Homo sapiens: one gene and its partners. The protein of the gene in region 1 interacts with the protein of each later gene in a pairwise test. Each region holds a gene or a part of one and is shown in the gene's direction. Other genes may lie near its edges. The genes, in order: USP13, TRIM63, TRIM55 and ATXN3.

What was found.
Region 2: the proteins of USP13 (region 1) and TRIM63 interact in a two-hybrid assay, tested with the Homo sapiens proteins (2 studies listed by BioGRID and IntAct).
Region 3: the proteins of USP13 (region 1) and TRIM55 interact in a two-hybrid assay, tested with the Homo sapiens proteins (2 studies listed by BioGRID and IntAct).
Region 4: the proteins of USP13 (region 1) and ATXN3 interact in binary tests that used the Homo sapiens proteins (3 or more experiments, as listed by UniProt).

What each region holds. Positions count from the first base shown.
Region 1 is NC_000003.12:179,656,021-179,663,075, forward strand, and holds part of USP13 (ubiquitin carboxyl-terminal hydrolase 13), read left to right. Parts: intron 1-7,055. UniProt on the Homo sapiens protein: Deubiquitinase that mediates deubiquitination of target proteins such as BECN1, MITF, SKP2 and USP10 and is involved in various processes such as autophagy, endoplasmic reticulum-associated degradation (ERAD), cell cycle progression or DNA damage response.
Region 2 is NC_000001.11:26,050,776-26,057,660, reverse strand, and holds the end of TRIM63 (E3 ubiquitin-protein ligase TRIM63), read left to right. Parts: intron 1-10; coding exon 11-33; intron 34-333; coding exon 334-458; intron 459-3,696; coding exon 3,697-3,768; intron 3,769-5,777; coding exon 5,778-5,788; 3' UTR 5,789-6,360; downstream 6,361-6,885. UniProt on the Homo sapiens protein: E3 ubiquitin ligase. Mediates the ubiquitination and subsequent proteasomal degradation of CKM, GMEB1 and HIBADH.
Region 3 is NC_000008.11:66,130,129-66,137,128, forward strand, and holds part of TRIM55 (tripartite motif-containing protein 55), read left to right. Parts: intron 1-4,861; coding exon 4,862-5,027; intron 5,028-6,966; coding exon 6,967-7,000. UniProt on the Homo sapiens protein: E3 ubiquitin ligase that plays an important role in regulating cardiac development and contractility, muscle growth, metabolism, and fiber-type differentiation.
Region 4 is NC_000014.9:92,096,583-92,103,582, reverse strand, and holds part of ATXN3 (ataxin-3 reference isoform), read left to right. Parts: intron 1-6,744; coding exon 6,745-6,909; intron 6,910-7,000. UniProt on the Homo sapiens protein: Deubiquitinating enzyme involved in protein homeostasis maintenance, transcription, cytoskeleton regulation, myogenesis and degradation of misfolded chaperone substrates.

The sequences.
Region 1 (7,055 bases):
AGGGAAAAGGCCAAAACCAGCTGAGTGGAAAAAAGAAATCATCCCTGCATTGGTTACTGTTGAAAAAGGTTATGTACAAAGATGGCTAGAAAATAAGGGAGATCAACATTCAAGGCCAGGGAAATTATATGTGCAAAGAAGATACAACGTGTGAATATTTCCCACTAATTTGCCTGTAATGTATTTGGAATAAAAAGATACATTTGGCAAGTAGCAAGAAGTGAGGTAGAACCAAGTAGAGAGTAGATGATGGGGGCCTTGAATCTGGAAAACATTTGATCTTGATTTTATATGGTCAGTTATGGAAAGCTATTCTTGGTCATGTGATTTAAAGTGGTGTTGGAGGAAGATTGTGAATCAACAAATTCACAGTGTACCTACCATGTCTAAGGCACTGTCTGTAGACCTTTGCCATTCTTCACCTTTGTGGGATATGAGTAGTGTATTAGTATCTCTCTTCCCTTCTTCCCACCTCCTAGGGCTTAACACATAGCAGATGCTCAATAACAGCTATTTTGGGATGAGTGAGAATTTGTTTTTCACCTACCTCTTTGATTTCATCCTGGACCCACCCTCCCACCTTGACGTGTAGGTTCACCTCTCCATGGTTTGGTTCATTGTGCAAGGTCTGTAATGCACCTTCCCAGTGGAGCTTCTTTTCAAGACTGAATTCAAGTGGTTCTTGCTCTATGAATCATTTCCATATTGCCTTCCACCAGACCCCATAAGCATTCCTGTCTAACCCCCAGTGACATGTTCACGTGCTTGTCTCTGCCTTTGAGTGCGACCTTCCTGGAGAGTGGGGACTTTGTGTTATTTCCAGCAGCTGGTCTAGCATCTGGTATATATACCAGGAGCTCAGTGAATGCTTTGGAAATGTATGAATTCCATGGAGTTACAGGCCCTGCACATGGTGAGGATAAAACATATGGGAAATACTGAGAAAGGAATCATGGGGGATTACCACATAGAATGAGGTGATTTCATTGATTGTTGGGGACAGTCGTGAAGGAGAGAGCCCAGACTGGCAGTGTTTGAATCCTATCTCCGTCACTCAGTGTGTAACTTCTCTGAGCCCCAGTTTCTCCATCTGTAAAATGGAGACAGTAACAACCTATCTCAAAAGGTTATTTTGTGGATTAAATAAATTAATACATAAAGTGTGTCTGGCCAATTAGTAATCACATACACATTTGCTTTAAAAAAGGAGGAAAGGCCGGGGCGCGGTGGCTAACGCCTGTAATCCCACCACTTTGGGAGGCCGAGGCAGGTGGATCACCTGAGGTCAGGAGTTTGACAGGAGGTGGAGGTTGCAGTGAGCCAGGATTGCACCACTGCACTCCAGCCTGGGCAACAGAGTGAGACTCCGTCTCAAAAAAATAAAATAAAATAAAAAAATTAAAAAGGAGGAAATAGAGAAGAATGGAAGGAAGAAAGAAGAAAGAAAAATAGTCAGTCATGGCCGGGTGCTGTGGCTCCCACCTGTAATTCCAGCACTTTGGGAGGCTGAGGTGGACAGATCACAACATCAAGAGATCGAGACCATCCTGGCCAACGTGGTGAAACCCTGTCTCTACTAAAAAAAATACAAAAATCATCTGGGTGTGGTGGCACGCACCTGTAGTCCCAGCTACTCGGGAGGCTGAGGCAGGAGAATCGCTTGAACCTGGGAGGCAGAGGTTGCAGTAAGCCGAGATTGCGTCACTGCACTCCAGCCTGGTGACAGAGGGGAATTCCGTCTCAAAAAAAAAAAAAAAAAAAAAAAAGAAAGAAAAAGAGTTAATCACAAGTTGTAAGCCCAAGAGTCTGGTTGTCAGGGGTTGTGTAGGAAGTTTTGTGTGCTTAAGTGGAGGAGGGATGTCTTGGTTCACACTTCTGCTCATAAGCCTCCCTGGACCAGCATGGAAATCTCCTCTCATCTCTTTGGTTGTTGAGCTCCTCATTTCTATGAGTGTACTTTGTCCTGTGTCTCTTCAGTTTCCAGGTGGTCAGTTCCAGTGAGGCGAGTCTCTGGCTTGTCCATGTGTAAGACTCATTTCCTTTTCTTTCTCAGCCTCCTGAGTAGCTGGGATTACAGGTGCCCACCACCACGCCTGGCTAATTTTTTGTATTTTTAGTAGAGACGGGGTTTCACTATGTTGGCCAGGCTGGTCCTGAACTCCTGACCTCGTGATCCGCCCACCTTGGCCTCCCAAAGTGCTGTGATTACAGGCGGGAGCCACTGCACCTGGCCAACTGATTTCCTTTTCTAAGACCACCTTCCTCTTGTGATCATTTGTCTGGGCTCTCTCTCAACCTTCATCTTCTGCTTCAGACTTCATCCTTTCCTCTGAATGCCTGCATTACGTAGAGTCTGTGTCATGCCGCACAGCGGTTCTAGTCTGTCCTCATAGTTGGCTCTCTTGTGCTAATTCTGCCCCCCTCCCCACCTGCATTGTAAGTGGAGCTGTTTATGCCTTGCCTTAGCTTGGGTCAACTGAAAACGGGGAGGCTTAGACAAGGCAGTTTATTTTGGAAAGTTATCCCAGGGAACAGAAGTGGAATTATGAGCAAGAGAATAGTGACAAAGAGAAAGAAGGAAAGCCAGTCCAAGAGTGAGTTATGGAGCTGGCTTCCACAGTGGGCAGCTAGAGCTAAACCTCACTGGGGACTCCTTGGGTAACTGCAGAATGTGCCTCAGAATTGTCCACTTGAGATGGAGCTGGGGAGAGTACTGTATTTATCCACTGGCTCCCATCCCCCATTGGTCAAGGTTTGTTCTAGGGGTGGAAAAGCCCTCGCTCTTCCAAGTCTGTATTTATAGGCACTAAGCCTGCAAATGGGAAGTATTTTGACAAGCTGAGCAGGACCAGCAGCAGCTGAGAAGCAAGAGGTCCTCAGTGCAGCTGAGGCTAAGACTGTTGGGCCACACCTGCTGTGACAATCAGCTGCATACAGTGGCTGAACCAAAAAGGTGGCCGGAGGGGATATGATACTCAGCATAAATGGTTGCCCCTTACTCCCACCTCTTCTTCCCTTCTCGCATTGGGACTGTTTTTTAAGAAGGAGCTTTTTTCCCATTTTTGAAAGCTCTGAGATGGCTCGGTGATATTGAGATGTCACTGTTGGTTCTTTGTCTTCCTGGGAGTCTTTGGAAACTCTGATGGACAGGGGCCATCAGGTGGGAGTGGCTGGTTTAGATATCCACCAGGAAAGACTTTGAGATCTCCATCTACTTGTGGGAACACTTCATGTTAGGGGCTCAGTGAATCCTCTGTCTTTCTGTCCTTTCTTCCACAAGTATTTAGTGGTGTGCCTGGTATTCTCTCAGGCATTGCCAGTAATAATAATGACATCTCACATGTATATAGAGCAGTTTTCAAAGCGTGCTCCCTGAACCAGCAGCACTAGCATGTCTTGGGAACTGCTAATTCTGTTTCAGAAGATCTGGGGGTGGGGGTGTAGCAGTCTGTGTGTTAATAAGCTCTTTGCATGATTCTGAGACATGCCAAAGTTTGAGACCGAGTGATAGGGCACTTACTAGGTGCCATGCATCATTCCAAGCCTTCTAATTATTGCATATATTATTATACCTACATGAACTCATTTAATCATCACAACAACCCTATGTTATATACTATTACCATTTTGCAGATCAGGAAACTCAAGTACAAAGATCACCCAGAGAGTAAGTAGGAGAGCTGGGATGTGAATCTGAATTGTCTGACTCTAGAATCTGTTTTTAAAAAACCATTTTGGCTGGGCGCGGTGGCTCACACCTGTAATCCCAGCACTTTGGGAGGCTGAGGTGGGTGGATCACCTTATGAGGTCAGGAGTTCGAGACCAGCCTGGCCAACATGGTGAAACCCCGTCTCTACTAAAAATACAAAAATTAGCCGGGCTGGGTAGCGGGCGCCTGTAGTCCCAGCTACTCAGGAGGCTGAGGCAGGGAGAATCGCTTGAACCTGGGAGGCAGAGGTTGCAGTGAGCCAAGATCCCGCTATTCCACTCCAGCCTGGGCGACAGAGCGAGACTCTGTCTCAAAAAACAAACAAACAAAACATTTTAACTCGATTTAATTGTACAATTCAGTGGCATTAAATTACATTCGCATGGAAACATTTTAACTCGTTTTAATTGTACAATTCAGTGGCATTAAATTACATTCGCATTGTTGTGTAACTATCACTATGCATTGTTGTGTGAATATCACTACTGTCGATCTCCAGTTTTTCATCCTTCCAAACTGAAACTCTGTATCCATTTGACAATAAACCCCCACTTCTCCCTTCTCCTAGCCCCTTGTAATGTCCATTCAACTTTCTGTCTCTATGAATTTGCTTATTCTAGGCACTTTATATAAGTGGAATCACACAGTATTTGTCCTTTCGTGTCTGGCTTATTTCATTTAGCATAATGTTATCAAGGTTCAGTGTTGTAGCATGCATCAGAATTTCCTTCCTTCTTAAGGCTGAATAATATTCCATCATATATATGTACATGTATTACATTTTATTTGTCCATTCACCTGTTAATGGACATCGGGTTGTTTCTACCTTTTGACTGTTGTGAATAAAGCTGCTTCAGTTGTTGGTGTACAAGTATTTGTTTGAGTCCCTGTAGATTCTCTGCATTTTACCATTGTACTATGCACGTTGCCTTGCAGTCAATGAGACTTCCCATCATAATGTTTACTTGTAGGGAGAAAAAAAAGTTAATTTAGGATCTCTGTGGAAAACTCTTCCTCCTGATGGATAAACTGATACAAGGTAGTAAAGCAAAATTTCAGAGCAGACAGACTTTTTTCCACTTTGAAGATATAAACTTAAAGTAAATCTTATTAGTTTCACATGTCAAAAGCTTCCTTCCAAAAGCAACTAGCTGAAAAGTTGTTCTCGAGCAGTGATTCTCAAGCTTTTTGACCTCTTTATACTCTTTAACTATTTTTGAGAACCGCAAAAAGCTTTTGTGTGATTTCTGTTGCTATTTACCATATTAGAAGTTAAAACTGAGAAAAATTTAAAACAATTTGAACAATTACATTCTATTGGCTTTTGAAATGATGTCATTGCATGTCACGTAGCCTTGGGAAAATGCCACTGTGTGCTATGAGAGAATGAGAGAGAGAAAGGCAAGTAACTTCATGTTATGAAAATAGTTTTGACCTCCCAAATTACTTAAAGACTCTGGGGTGTCAGAGGGTTACCAGGCCTTACTTTGGAAACCAAAGTTCTAGAGTTTAGGCAAGAAGATATAACCACTTATTCCAGTCACTTACCTCACCTGAAATGTAGCCTATGGGTTCACATTAAATTATTATCTTAATTTTAGCTCAACCATAGATGTCATATGTTGCATGCACATTCTTTTTGAAGCAAATTAAAATTTAGAGAGTTTGATTGACACTTTTTGAAAAAATTAGAGCTACTTGAGCTGGGAATTTACTATTTCATAGATAGGATTTTTTTTTTTTTATTCTCTGAACTGTGAGTTTCATTGTAGGGTGACCTGGCTGGGCTGTTTCTTTGGGGAAGCTTAAATGTTAGTGTGATTTTTTTTTCTTCCTTTGGCTACCAGGTAGGAGACTATTCTAATCTCTTGCCTGGAAAATACAGGCCTGTCTACCAGTATTTAGGGAACTGAGTGGGAGTGGAGGGTGAAGGTGGTCTCAGCATCTGGGTATTCGATACCAGCTGGATATTGCCTGTAGGTTCTCAGCTGTGTCCCTGCTTTGCTAAGCTTCTCCCATCATTGCAGGGGCTGGCTCCTGGACATTGCATTTCCCAGAGTCCCTTGGTGGCAAGATTCTGATACTGATTTTTCCAGTAAGAGATTTAGAAGGCAAAAGAGAAGGAGAAGCCACTTTGCTATTGCAACTGTGGCACCTGGTCGATGTGAGGTTTTCCTAGCAGCATCTGAGTGTCCTTCTGGGACACAGTTACCTCAGTGGTGGGGATTCTGACGTCATCTGTGCAGTTTCTTGTGACGCTTGTACATCCTGAGTTCCTGAACATAGGCAGTGATTTCTCTGACTGTGGCTCTCATGCCCTTTCCATGATTTTTTAAGCTTTTAATTTCCTGTATCAAATCTCTTCCTGCCTGTAATACCTGAATAGCATCTATTTTCTGACCAAATCTGGACTGATACACATACATTCTCTTAGTCCCCATGTTCGTGATGGTGCCTCTATTCTTAACTAAGCTCATTCTTCCCCAGCGCTGAAACCTTTGTTTTTGTCTGCTTTAGAGAATCACTCTCTAGTTCTTTGCCAGGAGAGGGAGGGGCCTCTTGGAGTGGAGGTGAGGTTTGGGGCTCTGACGGCTACATAGAAAACCTTTCTCTTTATTTTAGCTCCTACTTCACCCCATCTTCCAGAGTTATCTTGAATTGCCAGTTCTGGAGTCTTTTGGGCATTCTGGGGTGAAGATCAGGTTGGATCTTGGCTTTCCCTGCTGCTGGCCTAGGATTCAGCTCTGTTGCCATCTTAGTCTTTTAGCATTCATTTACCTGCCGTCCAGCTTTCCAGACTTTAGTGCTATAGCTTATGTCTTGAAAAAATCCCTTTGCTGTCCTTTGATTGGGGTTTCAGAAAGGAGTGAAATGGATGTCTTTGTGTCATTTGCCATGTGTACCCTAAAATCCTGCTTTTCTAAAATCATAATCAAGAAGTCACTTGCTGTCCCTTTTGGACAGTAGTTCATTACCTTTAAAGTTGTACCATTTTTAGAGCTTTGGAATGTGAGAGATGATGCTGATCCTGTCAGAAAGACTTTTTGGAAAAGTTCATGTTCTCTGCTCATTTTGGATCTGGACATCTGTGCAACTCTGAATTCTCTTTTTCCTCCCCTGCATTCCTCTCCCTATGGACTGGAGCTCAGTTAAAGGAGCGGCCATCCATTTTAGTGCCCCAGATTGAGAGGTGTATGGTATCATCCATTCTACCTCCCTCTCTCTCTTTTTATTTTTTAAGTTGTGATAAAATACATATAACATAAACTTTACCATCTTAACCATTTTAAAATGTACAGTTCAGTGGCATTGGAGTACATTCACACTGTTTTGCAGTTATCACCA
Region 2 (6,885 bases), on another chromosome or scaffold:
CCCCCTGCAGACTGCCAAGCAACTCATCAAAAGGTCAGTGTCTTCCTAGAGGCTATGATCCAAGCACCTAGTTCCCACCAGGACCTCTGTCCAGGAAGCCTCATCCTGGGCATTAGGCCTGCTGGGAGGGTCTCACTCTAGGCTGGCTTCCCTGACCCTTTGCATCCCTGACTTTTTGGACCACTCCTTGTGCTTGAGGTTGGAGAGGAAATACTCCATCCCTCCAGGGGAGCCTCTGGGTAGAAGGCCTGGGCGTGGCAAAGCATGTGCCCTCTCTTCCCTGCACTGAGCCCCAGAGACCTCATCCTGCCTCTCTTTCTGTCTCCCCTGCAGCATTGTGGAAGCTTCCAAGGGCTGCCAGCTGGGGAAGACAGAGCAGGGCTTTGAGAACATGGACTTCTTTACTTTGGATTTAGAGCACATAGCAGACGCCCTGAGAGCCATTGACTTTGGGACAGGTAAAGGAGGTGGTGATGCCACTTGTCTATTTGCCTGCCTGACCCCTGGAAACCAGCATCCCTCCAACTGAGCCCGATGGGGAGGCAGATACACTAATAAAGATCCCCAAATATCAATCAAACTCATATAGCCAACTTCTGGCCGGCTGTGGTGGCTCATGCCTGTAATCCCAGCACTTTGGGAGGCCAAGGTGGGCGGATCACTTGAGGTCAGGAGTTTGAGACCAGCCTGACCAACGTGGTGAAACCTCATCTCTACTAAAAATACAAAAATTAGCCAGGCGTGATGGCATGTGCCTGTAATTCCAGCTACTTGGGAAGCTGAGGCAGGAGAATCACTTGAATCCAGGAGGTAGAGGTTGCAGTGAGCCGAGATTGTGCCACTGCACTCCAGCCTGGGCAAAAGAGCCAGCCAAACTCCATCTCAAAAAAAAAAAAAAAAAAATTCATATAGTCGATTTCTAGATGAGCCCAGAGCCTAGCACAGTGCCTGGTGCAGAATTCCTGCTTCATAAATTACATATGGATCCATGGCAGGGAGGCCTCTTGGGGCAGTAGAAATAATATGCCCTCTGGAATCAGACAGTCCTGAGTTTAAATCCTGGTTCTGTCATTTGTTTATCTGTGTGACCTTTGGCAAGCCCCCTTCTGCCTGAGTTTTATTTTCTAATTTAAAAAGTCAGGTTAGAAGTGAGCCCTCTAATAATGACCAACTCATGGTGCTGTTGCAAAAAATCAGATATCAATGCAGAAAGGTCCTGTAGAGCCCTAAAGATGTACTAGTTATTGCCTAAAGGTAGTCTTAGCTTCAGTTTCTTAATGCTATCACCTATGATACCCAGGCACCTTAATTGATCAACATCATGTCCTCATTTCTGTTTATAATTACTCTTCCATAGAGTGCCTATAATAATTGTAACAATGCAACCGTAACAATAATAAGGGTGAAAATAACAAAGGAAATGAAGAAACTGAATGGAAGCAAATATGTTAATTTGCTAAAGGTCACACAGCTAAAAGGGAAACACAGCTAAAAGGCAACAGAGAAAGAGAGGGCAGATCCCACATTGCTGACTGTTGCGTTGGTCTGAGAGGTGGTGCTCCAATGACCAGCTGAGGTTGGGGGACAAGGGGATGATGAAGGAACAAGGAAGAACTGTAAATGGCTGGCGTGAGAAAGAGAAGAGCTTCTTGGCACCTCCTGTGTCGCTCTCCTACAAACCTTCAGTAGCTGGTGCTAAGTCTGTTTTCAGAGCCCCAGATATACCCCATTCATAGGTAAGGACAAAATACATCCCAAAGCAGAGACACCAATGGCCTTGGGGACATCCACTGCTGTAGTGAGCTGCTCCACTGTCAGCTTCCCTAAGCTAAGATATTCAAGAGTGGGTCAGCCAGGCACAGTGACTCACGTCTGTAATCTCAGCACTTTGGGGGTCCAAGGCAGGTGGATCACCTGAGGTCAGGAGTTCCAGACCAGCCTGACCAACACGGAGAAACCCCGTCTCTACTAAAAATACAAAATTAGCTGGGCATGGTGGTGCATGCCTGTAATCCCAGCTAACTCGGGAGGCTGAAGCAGCAGAATTGCTTGAATCCGGGAGGAGGAGGTTGCAGTGAGCTGTGATCACGCCATTGCACTCCAGCCTGGGCAACAGGAGTGAAACTCCATCTCAAAAAAAAAAAAAAAAGAAAGAAATAGATATTCAAGAGTGGGTCATACGGTGTGAACATAACATTGTGAAGTCCTGCACTGGCCTTCCTAATCTCCCTGAGCCTCAGTTTCTCCACAAGTAAAATGAGGAGAGTACCAACAGTCACCAGTTACTGAATATTCTGTATGTCCTAGGCGCTAAGCCCTTAACATAAGTTTTATCATTTAACACAACTTCATGGGATAGGTTCTGTTACCATCTCTATTTTGTAGTTGAGGGAACTTAAAGCTCAGAGAGGGTAAGCCACTTGTTCAAGGCCACACAGCTGGCAAGTAGCCTGTGCAGATTCTACTGAGGGCCATTTGGCTTGCAAAACTCTTGTGAGGATTTTATAAGACGATGCAGATTCAACACTGAGCACACTACTTGGCACATAGTAAGTACTCAGCAACTGCTATTAAATGTAGTCATTGTGACAATGATTAAACAACAGAACTCCCTGGGTTATACTCTGATATCAGTTACTTGGCTGGAATTTTGGTTGTCATTTTGGAGATACTATTTTTTTTTTTTTTTTTTGAGACGGAGTTTTGCTCTTGTCGCCCAGGTTGGAGTGCAATGGTGTGATCTCAGCTCACTGCAACGTTTGCCTCCTGGGTTCAAGAGATTCTCCTGCCTCAGCCTCCCAAGTAGCTGGGATTACAGGTGCATGCCACCACACCCAGCTAATTTTTTGTATTTTTAGTAGAGACAGGGTTTTACCATGTTGGCCAGGCAGGTCTTGAACTCCTGACCTCAGGTGATCTGACCGCCTCAGCCTCCCAAAGTGCTGGGATTACAGGTGTGAGCGACCAAGCCTGGCCTGAAGATACTCTTGACAAATGTTCTGATTCTGTGGTGACCCCTTCAGGGCCCCAAAAGGTTAAGGAGGTAGCTTGGGAGAGGAGCGGGGAAGGGAGATGTTCCCTGTTAAAGCTTGACGGTGACATCTCAGGATAAAAAAGTGGGGACATGAGTTGCAGCTCAGTCACTGTCCCTCTGGTGCTCAGCTTCAGGGAGCAGAGGTGGCTCCAGAAGTGCTTCCCCATCATGTCCACCCCTCCCCTCCACAGGCTAAGGAATGAGGAAAATGGGACAGTGGCTGCTGAACAAGCAGATCTCATAGGCTAAGTAGCTTCCTTCAAGACAAGGACTCTGATCCCTGAGGATCGAGGAGGTTTTTCCTCCTCAGGCAATGTTTATCTGCCTACCCGAGAGATGTGCAGAAGCACAGAGTGCGCTTCCTCAGAGTCCCCTCTCTGGTCACAGGCGAGCAGGTGATAGAAGCTGCTGTTGCTGGAGCAAGGAAGTGACTTGAGCCCAGCTCCCTGGGACGGAGTGCGGGGGATTGCAGGAGCAGGGCCTCTGTGCAGCGTGGGTCTGGCAAGCCCATCCCCTCCCAGACCACTGCCGCCGCTGTGTGGCCGTTTGACCCGACTGGGCACAGGAAGGGGTTTAGACCGTGCTCTCTCTTGCCTGGTTCCTCTTCAAGTAGCTCCTCAAGGAACCGGCCCCATCCTAACACAAATGTTTTTTTGTCACAGATGAGGAAGAGGAAGAATTCATTGAAGAAGAAGATCAGGAAGAGGAAGAGTCCACAGAAGGGAAGGAAGAAGGTAAGAAATTCATCTACCTCCATTCCTTCGTTCCTTCATTCATTCCACAACAATCTGAGGTGCCTACTGTATGTGAAGCACTGTGTTAGACATTGGCAATGACGCTCAGAACTGTCCCCAGCACGTGCTTTAACCCTACTGAGGGTAAAGTCCTGTTCTCTTTACCCTTAGAAAAGAAAAAAACCCCAAACTATTCATAATAAAATGCTCCCATTTCACATCTAAATGATCTTCTTAAATGGAAAGCAATATGGCACAGCAGAGGGAAAAGACAGGGGCTCATGAGCTAGGCTGGGCCCATTGAGGTGTTTTGTTTGGCCAGCACTGTGTTTAAATTAAAACAAACAAACAAACAAACAAAACTACTTGCTGGACAGGCACGGTGGCTCGAGCCTGTAATCCCAGCACTTGGGGAGGCCAAGGCCAGCCTGGCCAACATGGTGAAACCCTGTCTCTACTAAACATACAAAAAATTAGCTGAATTTGGTGGCAGGCGCCTGTAGTACCAGCTACTTAGGAGGCTGAGGCAGGAGAATCGCTTGAACCTGGGAGGTGGAGGTTGCAGTGAGCCGAGATCGTGCCACTGCACTCCAGCCTGGGTGACAAGAGTGAGACTCCATCTCAAAAAATAAATAAATAAATACTTGCTGGCTGGGTGTGGTGGTACGTGCCTATAATCCCAGCACTTTGGGAGGCTGAGGCGGGAGGATTGCTTGAGACCTGGAGTTTGGGACCAGCCTGGTCAACAGCAAGTCCTCGTCTTTACAAAAATAATTTAAAAATTAGCCAGGCATGGTGGTACATATCTGTAGTCCTAGCTACTCGGAAGGCTGAGGCTGGAGGATTGCTTGAGCCCAAGAGGTAGAGGCTGCAGTGAGCTATGATTGCGCCACTGCACTCTTGCCTTGGCAACAGAGGACACTACACTGTCTCTTAAAAGAAAAAATTAATTGCTAACATTTTTAAAATTAGGTTTTTTTTAAGGGTTAAGAAAAAGGAGATTTGAACTAAGAATCTGCATTTTCACCTTGTGAAAGTTTAGAAAAAGCAAACAATGCTGGACTTGAACTTCCTTGTAGTCCCAGAGTGCTGGCTCTGGGCAGTGGCTCTCCCCTTTAAAGGGGACACGCTGGCATGGTGGCTCACGCCTGTAATCCTAGCACTTTGGGAGGCCGAGGCAGGCGGATCACCTGAGGTCAGGAGTTTGACACCATCCTGGCCAACATGGTGAAACCCCGTCTCTACTAAAAATACAAAAATTAGCCAGGCGTGGTGACGGGCACCTGTAATCCCAGCTACTTGGGAGGCTGAGGCAGGAGAATCGCTAGAACCCCAGGGGGGCGGAGCTTGCAGTGAGCCGAGATCACGCCACTTCACTCCAGCCTGGGCAAAAGAGTGAAACTCCATCTCAAAAAAAAACAAAGAAAAGAAAAGAAAAATGGGACATGCCCTTGCCAGTTTGCCCAGCCCCACCACCACCAGTCCCGCTTGCTTCACTCATTCATGTTATCTGCTGGCTCCTTGTAGGCATCTGAGTTTGCCAGCCTGGCAGAGTTTGATTAGGAGCCTGGGTTCTGAATCACAGCAGCTCACAATTTCTCTGAGTCTTGGGCTACTCATCTGTGTATGGGGGTCTAACAGTACTGACGTCAAAAGGTTGTAGTGGGAAGTGAATAAGATAATCGTTTAGCACGGTGTCTGATGCATAGGAAGGACGTTTGCTAATTAGCACATGCTTGCAAATGTTATTTTTCAAACCACAGGTACTGAAACTAAATTCCAATCCAGTTGAAAACTATAGGTAGTCTTTTGGAGTTTTGTACTGATGTACAATCCATAATATTTGGGCAGCTAAATTCTATTTTGGTTTTAAAAGGAAGAGACCGGGAGGAATTGGAGTTTGATGTTTTATTCAAACTCCTGTTTGAATAAACAGTAGCTTGGTAAGCCTTGGATCCTCCTGAGTCCCTGTCTCACCCCTTGCCTCTGTATCTTTTTCTTCATTTCAGGACACCAGTAAGGAGCTGGATGAATGAGAGGCCCCCAGATGCAGAGAGACTGGAGAGGGTGGGGAGGGGCCCAGCGGCCTTGGTGACAGGCCCAGGGTGGGAGGGGTCGGGGCCCCTGGAGGGGCAATGGGGAGGTGATGTCTTCTCTCTGCTCAGAGAGCAGGGACTAGGGTAGGACCCTCACCGCTGCGTCCAGCAGACACTGAACCAGAATTGGAAACGTGCTTGAAACAATCACACAGGACACTTTTCTACATTGGTGCAAAATGGAATATTTTGTACATTTTTAAAATGTGATTTTTGTATATACTTGTATATGTATGCCAATTTGGTGCTTTTTGTAAAGGAACTTTTGTATAATAATGCCTGGTCGTTGGGTGACCTGCGATTGTCAGAAAGAGGGGAAGGAAGCCAGGTTGATACAGCTGCCCACTTCCTTTCCTGAGCAGGAGGATGGGGTAGCACTCACAGGGACGATGTGCTGTATTTCAGTGCCTATCCCAGACATACGGGGTGGTAACTGAGTTTGTGTTATATGTTGTTTTAATAAATGCACAATGCTCTCTTCCTGTTCTTCAAAGGAGCCGGGGTTTCATTCAGCCTTTTTTTCCTGGAGATGAGGGTTGAGTGTGAATGAACAGGACCCCTGGTAGGAGGCAATGGCAGGGCTAGGCTTAGGTCCCAGTAAAGGAGTTCTCGACACCACCATTTCCCAATGTGGACTCCATGGAAAGCCAGCCCTGAGCTGGTCCTTCAAGAACAGGTTCAATGTGTTGTTGCTCTGGTTCTCCAGAAAACAGAGCCTGAGGCAAAATTTAAATGCTTTAGTTGCAGGTTATAGGGACTTCCCCGTGCTCACTGAAGGCTCACTGAAGGCTCACTGAAAATCATCAAGAAGAGGCAGATTAAGGCTGGGCAGGTGCAGTGGTTCATGCCTGTAATCCCAGCACTTTGGGAGGACAAGGAGGGCAGATCATCTGAGGTCAGGAGTTCCAGACCAGCCCGACCAACATGGTGAAGCCCCGTCTCTACTAAAAATACAAAATTAGTTGGGCGTGGTGGCGCATGCCTGCAATCCTAGCTACTTGGGAGGCTGAGGCATGAGAAT
Region 3 (7,000 bases), on another chromosome or scaffold:
AGAGATGTTAAAACTTGCAGTATTGGTAAAACTACAAAACACATCTTCACCTTAGCTATGAAGTTGGCTTGGTGCAGCTGCCAAAAATAGTACCCAGGCCTGGGAAGTAAATTGCGTAAAAGCAATGAACCAAATTTCCAACAATAAAGCTCATAGTTGAGTGAACTAGGGATGCTTTTGTGATTTTCTGTGATTTTGTTATGCTGTTTTTTCTTGAACTTGAGACTTTCCTGTGGGACAATTTTACTTGGTAGCAAAACCACAAGTTGCACAGAGCACTTGGCCACATGTCTGGGAGGAAACGCAGTTGTCCCCTGGGGGCAGACAGCCTTACTAGACCAGAATCTTGAGCCTCAGGGTACATTAGGTAACACTGGAATGACCTTGGATATACAGAATGAAAAGAGTTCAGCTGTGGCTATTGGAAGGGGGTCGGGGGGGGTGACCAATCACAGACTGGGATGTTGTCAGTCAACTCTGACCTCCTCCAGAAAGGCTGGAGACTGTAAGTCTCCACAAAACCTAGCATTCTTTTTTTTTTTTTTTTTTTGAGATGGAGTTTTGCTTTGTTTCCCAGGCTGGAGTGCAGTGGCGTGATCTTGGCTCACTACAAGCTCTGCCTCCCAGGTTCACGCCATTCTCCTGTCTCAGCCTCCCAAGTAGCTGGGACTACAGGCACCTGCCACCACGCCCAGCTAATTTTTTTGTATTTTTAGTAGAGATGGGGTTTCACCGTGTTAGCCAGGATAGTCTCGATCTCCTGACCTCTTGATCCACCCGCCTCGGCTTCCCAAAGTGCTAGGATTACAGGCATGAGCCACTGCGCCCAGCCAAAACTTGGCATTCTTATCCAGAATTCTGCATGGTGCCAGACTAGCCACAGTTGGGAGTGGGAGATGGTAAGAGAAGGTACTATTTTGGCTAATATTAATAATTAATATAATAATAATTAACTTTAAAATATAACAAGTAAAACTACTATGTGCTGCATGCCAGACACTGTTCAGGGTGCCTAACACATGAATCATGTGCAATTCTTTAATTCTCACAATAATCCGGTGAGGTGTTGATTATTATAATTACTGCTACCCTATTAAAGCTTTTAGTGCCTTAAAGTAATCAACATACACAACTTTTAGAATTCATTACTACTGGGCCTCTGAAGAGAAATGCAGTCTCCACTCTGTTCTCTCTTTACCCACCCCCAAGCCTCATTCCCCAGAGTCAACCACTTTTAATTCTTTTAGCTGTTTTTCTGCTATTTATCACCAATGACATGTGCATACTACTGGTATGCTCCTATTCTTTGATTTTTCAATTTTAGACATTTTCTATTGACTTTCCACTGTAGACAATTAGGACTGAGCCCTCACATGGCTGGGCTTTACCTCTACTTGGGAATTCTTTTACTCTCCCCCTGGGTTGAACCCCTTGCTCCCTGGATTCCAGGTCTCCTTGTTTGGTGGCTTACTCTCTTATTTCTATGGAGCACATCCTCAAGTAATCTCTTAAAACATGCACAAAGTCCTCCTCTTTTCAGCCTCTCCCAGTCTGTCACCGCCTACTTCCACCTTCAGGACTACTGGCTCCTGCAGTTCCAGAGCCTTTCCAGGGTTCCATAGCTCAAGTCAGCTTGCTTATTGTAAGCTTCTCACTGCAGGAATGTAACAGAACTAAGATGCAACTCAAGTAGGTCATGTCCCTTCATCCAGATGTTCCTAATTTCCAACATTTGGTTGACATCTCTCATCTGCTGTCATCTGTGCTCACTTTTTGTCCTTATTGATTTATGCCCTTTTATTTCCTTATCCTCATTTCACTGGGATTTCAGCAGAATAAATACATAAATACATACATACATATATAAATACATAAATAAATACATGCTTGTGTTCATTCTGCCACATTTAATTAGAAGACCCTTAATCTGATATTTGATACGAGTAAAAACTGAGACCAGAAGAGGTTAAGTAACTTGTCTAAGGCCACATAGCCACTACATGGAGAAGCTGAGCTGAAATGAAGCTTTAAGATCAGTTTGGGCAGGCACAGTGGCTCACGCCTATAATCCCAGCACTTTGGGAGGCTGAGGTGGACAGATCACCTGAGGTCAGGAGTTTGAGACCAGCCTGACCAACATGGTGAAACTCCATCTGTACTAAAAATACAAAAAAATTAGCCAGGTGTGGTGGCAGGCACCTGTAATCCCAGCAACTTGGGAGACTGAGGCAAGAGAAATGCTTGAACCCGGGAAGGTGGAGGTTGCGGTGAGCTGAGATTGAGCCATTGCACTCCAGCCTGGGCGACAAGCAAAACTCCATCTCAAAAAAAATATCAGTTTGACTACAAAGTTACTACTTCAATTGCCTCACCAAGACCAGATGCCCACTCCTCAGGAAACTCTAGGGTGGCCCCGGGAACCTCAGAGACCAGAGACAGCAGGCTACATACTTCTCAGTCTAGCCTACACTGAACGGTGAGGGGCCACAGCCAACATTTAGCACTGGGCCCTGACCACAGCTGTGAGCTTGGCTGCTCTCACCTCATAAACATGTATTTATGTCATTCTTTTACATGCCAAATCGGTCCCAAGTCAGTTACATGTTTGAAGTTGTACAGAGGTTTCATTATATGCTCATCTATGAGTAAGTGGTGCCTCTGGGGCTGGGCTACAACCTAAATAAGAAAAACCCAATGAGGAATATGGGAAATTGTTCTCAGTGTATACAGCACCATGAAAAAAATAAATAAATTGAATCACAAACAAAACTAAATGTAGAGCCTTATGGCTGTTTTCACATTTTCAATATTTGCATATACTGCATAGACCTGTGCTCTATGACGCAATCTCTGGTCACAGCTGTTGATATCAGAACAGCATGTGGGACCCAAGCTGCCCACTCTTGCTTAGCCCACATTAATAATAAGGTGGAGATACCTACGAGGGAAGGGTTTAGAGGGGAAGAAGCCTTTGACCAGGCAGAGACCAACTTGCCAGTCCCAACCCCAGAGGGCACTGTCATTTATTAAAGGAGTAATCAGGATGTGGTCTGGTCTCTTCCTCTGCCACTCAGGAGTGCCAGGTGATCCCAGGCTTTCCCCATATTTGCCATGCCTTCTCCAGCTGGGTGGTGTTACACTAGAGCACAGGGAATACTGTCCATTTAATAGGTCAAATTCCCTTTCATTGTCTCACTCATTTGTGCAACAAATATTTATGGAGCCACTGCCTCTGTGCAAGGCACTGTTCCGAGTACTGGAGATGCAGCAAAAAAAAAAAAAGACTCATCATGGCCCCTGCCCTTATGGAGCTGATATTCTAGTGGAGGAAACAGACAGACCTGAGAGGAGGATAATTTTCTCAATTGTGGAGTTGACTTCCTTATTTGAGTTCCAAATAATGTGGTCAAATCAGAAGGTCATAGACTTCATGGAAAGCATATTGCTGCAAGACCAGACAGAAATTCCTTTTGCAACAGTCAGATTCTAAAATTTTGAAACTGGAAGTCCGTGCAATTTTCTTACAAGACCCAGGGCTTCTCCCAATGTTTAGCCTAATCTCAAGTAATTGACGTCCACCTAGCAACTTATAAAGGAACATTAGCGTCTTACAGAGGCACATCAGCACGTTCTCTGCCTTTCTCTGAGTTCTGGGTCTGCAGCTACAAGATACCACACATCAAAAAAGATGGGTTTCAAACACTTGTATTCATGATTTACAGTAGGAAGTGCATTTTACATTGTGACCACTTACATATATGGACGGATATATATACACACACATATGTATATACACACATACACAAACACACACACACACACAAACACACATATACTTTTGTTTCAGTCACATATATACACACGTACACCTGAAACAAAAGTTTCGAACAGCAATACTTATTTTTACTACATGTAATTCACAGTATTTGCTATTCCATTCTATTTTTATTTTAACAATGCAGATCATAGCTCCCTAAATTGATTTCATGGCTCATAAAAACCTGTAGTTTTTAAAAATTGGATCTGTATAGCAACAAAACAAAATGTAGTCCCAAATCTAAGATGTTGCTAAATAACTATGTGTTTGGAAATTTGAAGAAAGCTTCTGGATTTGGATTTGAATTTTTTGAATACTTCTGAAAACTATTAGCAGCCTCAGTCATTAGATAGGATATATCAGAATTCCTGGGGTTTATATAAGGAGGTACACCCACACTTGCGTCTCATACACATTTGCATCCAACCAGTACTTGAATTAATAATCAGAAGATTTTGGTTCCATGTGAGCCACACCTATCCTCATTTCTTCAGGTGAAAAGGGTCTTTCCTGGGGCCAGAGGCTGGAGGGGGGCGATCTAGCTACTCCTAAAAGCTGGTGCAAACTCGACTTTTAGTTCATCAACAATTTCCTGTTCTTGGTCCATAATGGGAAAGTGTCCCTTGAGAAACTTGTGAGCATGTAGACACAGTGCTGGACCACGTTCCTGATGGCTCACCAGGGTTCGATATTCTACTTTCAGGAATTTCACTACCAGATTCTGAAACCTTAAATAACTTAAAATTGGCCATGTGGAAATACACCATGGAAATGGGCAAATGGTACAAATCAGGATCTCCACGTCTCTGTCCCTACCCCAAGCAGGTTGTTAGAGATTTGCCAGCACTCCCCTGCTACACCTGCAGGGAAGCTGAATTTGGTGGGCTCTGAGCATGTGAAAGGGCCCCTGGGGGTCTTCTGGAATAGAATTGCTGGGCATACAGGGAAGAGAAGGAATTTGCAAGGCAGAGCAACATCAGCTCTGCCTTGATGAGATTGCCCCAGTGAGAGCTGATGGACATTTATCTGCCTACCTCCTCCCAGGCCAGAAAAGAAATCCGACCAGCCCATGTGCGAGGAACATGAAGAGGAGCGCATCAACATCTACTGTCTGAACTGCGAAGTACCCACCTGCTCTCTGTGCAAGGTGTTTGGTGCACACAAAGACTGCCAGGTGGCTCCCCTCACTCATGTGTTCCAGAGACAGAAGGTAACAGAGCTGCTCCCTCCCTCCCGCAACCCCTCCCCATCCCCACACCTTAGGGCCTTCCTGGGGCCAGTGTGAGTGGCTCCCTGCGGTGGAGGAGGAAGCCCAAGCCACGCAGGGCCATGGGACACTGGAGGGCACACAAGGTCTGCAGGAAGACATGTGCACAGTTGTGCACGAGGCACACACCAAATTCCCTGGACGGTGGGGGACCAGGCGAGACAGGGCAGGGGTGCCCAGGTTCAGGAAGTGGTGCAGAACGGCACGATCCCTGTTTTTGTGCCCTTTGGAGGTTGCTGATGATGAGCAATGTTAGGGGACCCAGCAAAAGCTCAAACTGCTCCAGCTTATGTGAAGTTTAGACTACAGATAAGAAAAGGACAGCTTTTTACCCTAGTCACAGAATACTTTCCTTCATCCACCCATGAAAGATTTCTTTGGCCCTCCTCAATGCCTTTTATCCCGCACTCTTAGTGAGGGAGGGTTACACTGATGACATGCAGTTACAGAACAGCTTTAAAACACAGACTTGTGCTGGCCCTCCTGTCACCAGGGCCAGTTGCCTAAAAACCCCTCTGAGTGTGGTGTCTCCCCCTGACCCCAGGGCCTCAGCCATGGCCCCCTAATTCTGAGCAGACAGAAAGACAGTGTCTCCCTCTACACATTACCAACCTGCCAACCTGGTTTCATTCATGAGCAGGTCAGAATTTATCCATCTGGTACAGATAAAAGTGGAGTTGGGTACTCCAATAGGTGCAGCCACTCCAGGCACCGAGAACTTGAGCAGTTCCACTACTCAGTTTCTTTCATTTAGAATCATCAGTTCCACATTTGATCAGTGTTTTACTGTGAAGATCAGTGCTGAAATCAAATTTGGAAGCAAAACTCTTGGGCAACACCAATTACAGCTAGTGGCCACTAAGTCCTAAAGAAACAGATTTTGCAAATTATCCACAACATTTGTTTATTTTTGAATCCAGTTACAATTTATTCCCCCTTCTCTTCTGCCCACCTCCCCCAAAGCATAGCATAATAGAACTGGATGGTAGCTGTTTCACACTCCTTCCTTCAGAGCCTGGAGACTCATGTGAGATGGACAGAAGAACAGACTGGTGGGACCCTCACCCTTGCTCCTGTTTGGCCAAAGCAGCTTCACCTCCATATTAGCTTTCACTTGAAGAAGGTTCTGCAGCTTTAAAATATTTTATAATCACTGTTCTGGTCCAATCTTCTCCTTCTAAATGTGAGAAAATTAGGGTCAAAATTGAATATATGTTTTGCCCAACATCACAGAGAAGTTGGGGGTAGAGTTGGACCAAGCGCATGGGTCTCCCAAGTGCCCCTCCAGTGCTCCTGGTGGCTCCATCAGCCAGTCTTGGGAAGGGGGTAAATAGGAACAATAGAATCTCTTCCTAAGTCAAAAGAGCAAAGGAATTTAAAAGTTGACATTTCTCCCCTAGAACTAGTTCTTTGTTTCAGTGTGAAGTTTGTAATGACTTAGTCTAATGTGTGAGTGTTTGTGTCTGTATACACTATATTCTTATGCCCATAATAAGTATTTGTTGAATAAATGAGTATTTACTATACACATTTCCCAAGTAAAATTGACCCTTAGTTCCACTAGGCAAATAATTCCATTTGGGTCCCTGAAGTCACATATTGGTCTCCATGCTATTTATAAACAATACTTAGAATTCTTTAGCTTGAACATGTTGATCTTAATATTAAGACTGATGAAAACTGTGAAACCTTTCCCTGCACAAATGGATTCATACACAAAGGTTTGCTTGCAATATCAGAAGGTCCACAGGCCTCCCTGTTAGTCCTTAGGGGTTGCATGGATCCTAAATTAAGAACCTGTAAAGACAATATTATGACCAATTCACAGTCGGGGTGGCTAGGAAACCCCTAAGATATTGGGTTCATGTTTTCTCTTCATTAGTCTGAGCTCAGTGATGGCATCGCCATCCTCGTGG
Region 4 (7,000 bases), on another chromosome or scaffold:
GTTAGCACATGCCTGTAGACTTGGGAGGCTGAGGTGGGAGGATTGCATGAGTCTGGGAGGTCGAGGCTGTAGTGAGCCATGATCGCACCACTGCACTCCAGCCTAGGGGACAGAGCAAGATCCTGTCTCAAAAGAAAAAAATGTATATATTTGAATGGATAAAGAGATGGCTTTGAGTTTCTGAGATATATATGGTGCTGTTTATCTAAAGTAAACAAGTTTTCTGTAAATATTTTAAGGCTTTGCAGGCCAGCTGTAGTCTCTGTCACACATTCTTATTTGTGCATGTTTTTCCCAACCATGTAAAAATGTAAAGTGCATTCTTAGCTACTGGGGCAGGTTGAATTTGGCCCATGGGCTAGAGTTTGCCAACCCCTAACTTAAACCTTTGTACTAACTTTATGACCACTACTGGATTTTTGTTGTTGTTTGTTTTAGTTCTGGTGCCTGCTTTGTTTTTTTTTTTTTTTTTAATCCTCTTGCTGATGTTTCTTGGTGCAGTTACTGTGCCATTTGTATTGGTGCTTTTAATGTAATGCAAACTGGTAATAATATCTAAACTTGCTGGGGTTGTACATAAAATTATTGAAAAGATTGAAAAGATGCTGAGCATTGACTCTGTGGCATTCATTATGCCCTTTTGTGATTGCTGGATTTTAGCCATCTTTAGGACATTTGAGCTTTAGGAGAAGCCAAATTCTGTATAAATGACTTGAAGTGCTAATAGCACAGGTTTTGAAACCTCTGCCTGGGTTTGAGTCTCAGCTCTGCCTTTTACTACCTGTGTGATCCTGAGCAAGTTACTTAGTATCCCTGTCCTCTAGTTTCCTCCTCTGTAGTGTGGGGATAATAACATAGACATAACCTGAGAGTTAGAGTGTAGAGAAGGCTCCCTGGCAGATAGTGCTGTAGAAGTACTGGCCATTGCCATTACTCAGGTGCTTGTGTTTGCTGAACCTCATAGTAAGGGCTCGGAGAGCACTAAGAGGAGGTGAGAAATGCTGCTAGATTGACAGCTTGTCCCCAGATAGCCCATTCCCGAGAGCACCTTAGGTTTATACCTGATTTGTGTTGTAGTTAGTAGTGTCTCTGGTAATTTGAACTAGTTTCAGGTTGGTCTTGAAAACCTGGGGAGGTTGGGGGTAAATGATTTGGTAGCAGTTCTCTTTTGTGATTTTATACATTATCTTTGTAGAACTGCAGTTTGCTAATTCTCTGAGCCCAACACAATGAAGTCTGGGCCTAAAATCATAGAATTTCTTTTATTTTTTTTTTTGTTTTTAATTTATTTATTCCCTCCCTCCCTCCTTTCTTCCTTTCTTCCTTTTCTTTCTTTCTTTCCTTCCTTCCTTCCTTCTTTCTTTTCTTTCTTTCTTTTCTTTCTTTGGAGTCTCACTCTGTCACCAGGCTGGAGTGCAGTGGCACGAACTTTCTTCAGAGTCTCACTTTGTCACCAGGCTGGAGTGCAGTGGCGCGAACTCAGCTCACTGCAACCTCCGTCTCCTGAGTTCAAGAGATTCTCCTGCCTCAGCCTCCCGAGTAGCTGGGACTATAGGCATGTGCCACCATGCCCAGCTAATTTTCTTATTTTTAGTAGAGACGAGGTTTCACCATGTTGGCCAGGATGGTCTTGATCTCTTGACCTCGTGATCCACCTGCCTCAGCCTCCCAAAGTGCGGGGATTACAGGCGTGAGCTACCACGCCCAGCCTATTTTTTATTTTTTGAGGCAGAGTCTCACTCTGTCACCCAGGCTGGAGTGCAGTGGTGCAATCTCAGCTCACTGCAACCTCCGCCTCCTGGGTTCAGGTGATTCTCCTGCCTTAGCCTCCTGAGCACCTGGGACTACAGGCGCCTGCCACCACACCTGGCTAATTCTTATATTTTTAGTAGAGGCGGGGTTTCACCATGTTGGCCAGGCTGGTCTCGAACTCCTGATCTCAAGTGATCAACCTGCCTTGGCCTCCCAAAGTGCTGGAATTACAGCCATGAGCCACCATGCCCAGCCAAATCATGAGATTTCAATACCGCTGAACTTTGATTATGGCAAAGTGAACTTCTGCTTTGATTAAAGCTTGATGAGAGAGGTGGCTGGGGATAGTTTGAGATAAGGGCAAGGCAGGAAAATGCATAATCTTACGTGGGCTCATTGTCATTGTACAATTCTTTTGGTCCATGTGGAATTTGATCCGTCCTATGACTTAAGTTATGTTTATTTTTGTTTTTATTTTTATTTATTTTGTGTCTTTTTGAGAGACATGATGTTGCTCTGTCACCTGGGCCAGAATACAGTGGCACAATCTTAGCTCCGTGTAGCCTTGAACTCCTGGGCTCAAGTGATCCTCCCACCTCAGCCCCTCAAACAGTTGAGATTATAGTATGAACCACTGTGCCTAGCCTTAAGTGATTTTTAAATTTGTACTGAACAGTTTGTCCTTTCCTTCCATTAAATCATATTAGAAGTACAGAACTTGATATTTCCTGTAGCAATACAGTTTTTCTTTGATGAAGTTTGATTTCAAGTACTTATTTTTCATAATTTAAAGCTATTTTTTATAGAGAGAATTTTAATCAAATATTTGGATGTCACTATTGCTATATATGGTATTAAGTATGGTGACCATAGTTTGTAAACTCCAAACTGACAGCAAGACAGGAAATTTGTGTTAGCAAAGGCTTTTTTCTTACTGTTTGAATTTTTTAAAAATTAGATACAATACAGAGAGGAGCACACAAATCATTAAGAGTACAGCTCAGCGAATTTTCACACAGTGAACATGTGTAAACAGCAAGTAACAAAAGATTTACCTGCATCCTATAACCTCCCATTATTCCCTTTTCTAGGTACTGTCTCTCCACTGCATTCCCACCAAATATAACCACTATGCTGAATTCTGACATCATAAATGAGTTTTGCCTGATTTTGAGCTTTTGTGACTGGAAGTGTACAGTGTATATACCCTTTCGATTCTGTCCTCTTTAGTTTACCATTGTTTGAGAAATTTATCCATACTGTTCCAGAATTAACTACTGTTAATTATTGTTAATTAACTACTGTTGTAGTTAATTCATCCTCATTGTTATCTAGTATTCTTTTGTGAGTAAACACAATTTCCATTCTACTGTGATCCCAGCTATCCATTTGGGTCGTTTCCAGTTTGGGGTCCATTACAAATAGTAATGCTATCTGTAATGCTATTTTGTATTACTACAAATAGTAATGCTATTTGTGGCACAAAAATACTGCTTTTGTGAACATTCTTATACATGTCTTTTGATGAATGTATGTTTGCATTGCTGTTGTTTACATTATGTACCTAGTAATGGAATTGCTAGATCATAGGAGATGTATATATTAAGCTTTAGTGGATGCATTACATAATTATTAGTTATTATTGGTTATACCAATTTATCCTCTCATCAGTAGTATACAACAGTTTCTGTATCTCTAATCTCCAACATTTTAGCCATTTTAGAGTTTGTGTACTAACACATTGTGGTTTTAATTTACATTTCCCTGATGACTAATAAAGTTGAGTACCTCTTTTGTGTTCTTTATAGCCATTTGACTGTCTTGTGAAGTGCTTGTTTGTCTTGCCTATTTTTCTTTTCTTTCTTTCTTTTTCTTCCTTCCTTCCTTTCTTTCTTTCTTCTTTCTTTCCTTCCTTCTTTTCTTTCTTTCTGTCTTTCTTTCTTGTCTTTCTTGTCTTTCTGTCTTTCTTGGTCTTGCCCTGTCACCCATGCTGGAGTGCAGTGGTGCAGTCTCAGCTTACTGTAGCCTCGACCTTTTTGGGGCTCAAGTTATCCTCCTTTCTCAGCCTCCCAAGAAGCTGGACTACAAGCACGCACCACCATGCTCAGTTAATTTTTTATTTTTTGTAGAAATGGGGTTTCACCATGTTGTCCAGGCTGGTCTCAAACTTCTGGGCTCAAGTAATCCTCCTGCCTTGGCCTCCCAAAATGCTGGGATTACAGGCATGAGCCACCGCAGCCAGCCTTGGCTATTTTTCAAAAGGATATAAGTAGAACATCTGTATATCCCTTCAATTTGCATATTATTCAGTAAGAGTTGCACTCTGGTAGTAGAAATATATAAGGAGGAGAAAGAAGTGGAAACAAAAAGTCTATTCTCATGAGAAGACTTGGGGGATAGTGTTCTCTCTAGCTCCAAGCTACTTATTCCTTACGAAAAGTTGAAGATAAACTTATCTCAGACTGAGGCTGTCTCAATGTTGTCTTCCTATTCCATTATACACATATAACCCATATTTTTTTCACCAGCTGAATTTTGCTCCTAGAAAATTGATTCATCAGGAAAAATATCCGTCTTGCAAGGTGGTTCTCTTTAGAGTCTGCTGTGTGACATAGCTCAGGACAAATTGTGTGATGTCAGATAGGTTGGGTTAAGGAATAGACCTTATTGGGGAAAGAGAGAACTTGGAGGGCCAAGGTTAGCAGGAGAAGGAAATGTTCTCTCATCTGCCGTCAATTCAGGGAGGGGCAAACCTGGTGTCTGTGTTCACAGGGAGGGATCCATCCATCTGTGATTCTCCCTTCTTATCAGGTAGCATGGGAAAGCTACACTGTTGCGGGGAGGAGGGTCACACGCAGGCTACTTAGTACCAGGCACCCTGGACTTGGATTCAGGTTGCCAGTTGTGTGAGAAACTGCCCAGCACCTGAAGGCCCTGAACCCATGAGAAGTTGTACCTACCTCCCATGAGGAGGAATCCTGTCATCCCATGGGAGCTGAGCTTGGGTGCAGTCCCTCTTGCTGGCTTGTCCAGGAGTGAGCTCCAGGGTTGTTTGGGACAGTTCTGCTCATTGCTTTACACTGTGTATACATTATCTGTAGAGTTCCATGAAGAGAACTTCAGCACTGTAACTGCAAGTTTTAACATGGAACAGAATTTTTCTCACCTGTATTAATTCTTAAGATTTGAAGTTCTATCAACAAGCATTTAGATTGTGTGGAGATTTTTTTATTTTTATTTTTGGAGACAGAGTCTTGCTCTGTTACCCAGACTGGAGTGGCAGTGGCATGGTCTTGGCTCACTGCAGGCTCTACTTCCTGGGTTCAAGCGATTCTCATGCCTCAGTGTCCTGATTAGCTAGGACTACAGGTACACACCACCATGCTGGCTAATTTTTGTATTTTTAGTAGAGACGAGGTTTCACCGTATTGGTCAGGCTGGTCTCGAACTCCCAGCCTCAAGCAGTCCACCCACCTCGGCCTCCCAAACTGCTGGGATTACAGGTGTGAGCCACCATGCTTGACTGACATCATCATGTTAAAAGAATAAATGTTCTAGGGAGCTGGGCACAGTGTCATGTTTCTGTAGTTCTAGCTGCTCGGGAGGCTGAGGCAGGAAGATCCCTTGAGCCCTGGAGTTCAAGTCCAGCCTGGGCAACATAGTGAGATCTCTTTTTTTAAATAAATAAATAACTGTTCTAGGGACTAAAATTTCCTTTCACCATTAGTAATTTACTGTAGAATCTCCAAGAATGAACTTATTTTAGGTACTGAAAATGAGGGAGACTAAATGTTTTATACAGTAGTTTTTAGTAAAATATGAGATTTGATGCATTTGATAGATGATGTTTGTTTAAAATAATTCTTAAATTTTTGATCATGTAATTATAGTTTCATTAATGGTAGATTTGTAAAATAAATGTTACCAAATGAAAATGCATGTACCTATGTTAATTATCCTTATCTAAAGCTGAAAGTTCAGTTCAACTATGTTAAAACATAGTAGGGGCCTGGCAGGGTGGCTCTTGCCTGTAATCCCAGAACTTAGGGAGGCCAAGGTGGGCAGATCACGAGGTCAGGAGATCGAGACCATCCTGGCTAACATTGTGAAACCGTATCGCTACTAAAAATACAAAAAATTAGCCGGGCATGGCGGTGGGCACCTGTAGTCGCAGCTACTTGGTAGGCTGAGGCAGGAGAATGGCGTGAACTCAGGAGGCAGAGCTTACAGTGAGCCGAGATCATGCCACTGCACTCCAGGCTGGGTGACAGAGCAAGACTCCATCTCAAAAAAAAAAAAAAAGTTGGCCAGGTGTGGCGGCTCACACCTGTAATCCCAGCACTTTTGGAGGCCGAGGCAGGCGGATCACAAGATCAGGAGTTTGAGACCAGCCTGGCTAACAGAGTGAAACCCTGTATATACTAAAAATACAAAAATTAGCCAGGCATGGTGGTGCATGCCTGTAGTCCCAGCTACTTGAGAGGCTGAGGCAGGAGAATCACTTGAACCCGGGAGGCGGAGGTTGTGGTAAGCTGAGATTGCTCCACTGCACTCCAGCCTGGACAACAGAGCAAGACTCTGTCTCAAAAAAAAAAAAAATTAATGATTAAATTATTTAGGGGAGCCGGGCGCAGTGGCTCACGCCTGTAATCCCAGCACTTTGGGAGGCCAAGGCGGGCGGATCACGAGGTCAGGAGATCAAGACCATCCTGGCTAACACAGGATGAAACCCCGTCTCTACTAAAAATACAAAAATTTAGCCGGGCGTGGTGGCGGGTGCCTGTAGTACCAGCTACTCGGGAGGCTGAGGCAGGAGAATGGCATGAACCCGGGTGGCGGAGCTTGCAGTGAGCCAAGATAGCGCCACTGCACTCCGGCCTGGGTGAAAGAGTGAGACTCCGTCTCAAAAAAAAAAAAAAATTATTTAGGGGAAGATACTATACAATTCTGTTTAACAAGTCACATTTTAATTTTTTCTTTTGGAAATATTAGCAAGAAGGCTCACTTTGTGCTCAACATTGCCTGAATAACTTATTGCAAGGAGAATATTTTAGCCCTGTGGAATTATCCTCAATTGCACATCAGCTGGATGAGGAGGAGAGGATGAGAATGGCAGAAGGAGGAGTTACTAGTGAAGATTATCGCACGTTTTTACAGGTACTGATTTTAAACTCACTAAGTCACATTTCTTTTTTTTTTTTTTTTTTGAGACGGAGTCTCGCCCTGTTGCCCATGCTGGAGTGCAATG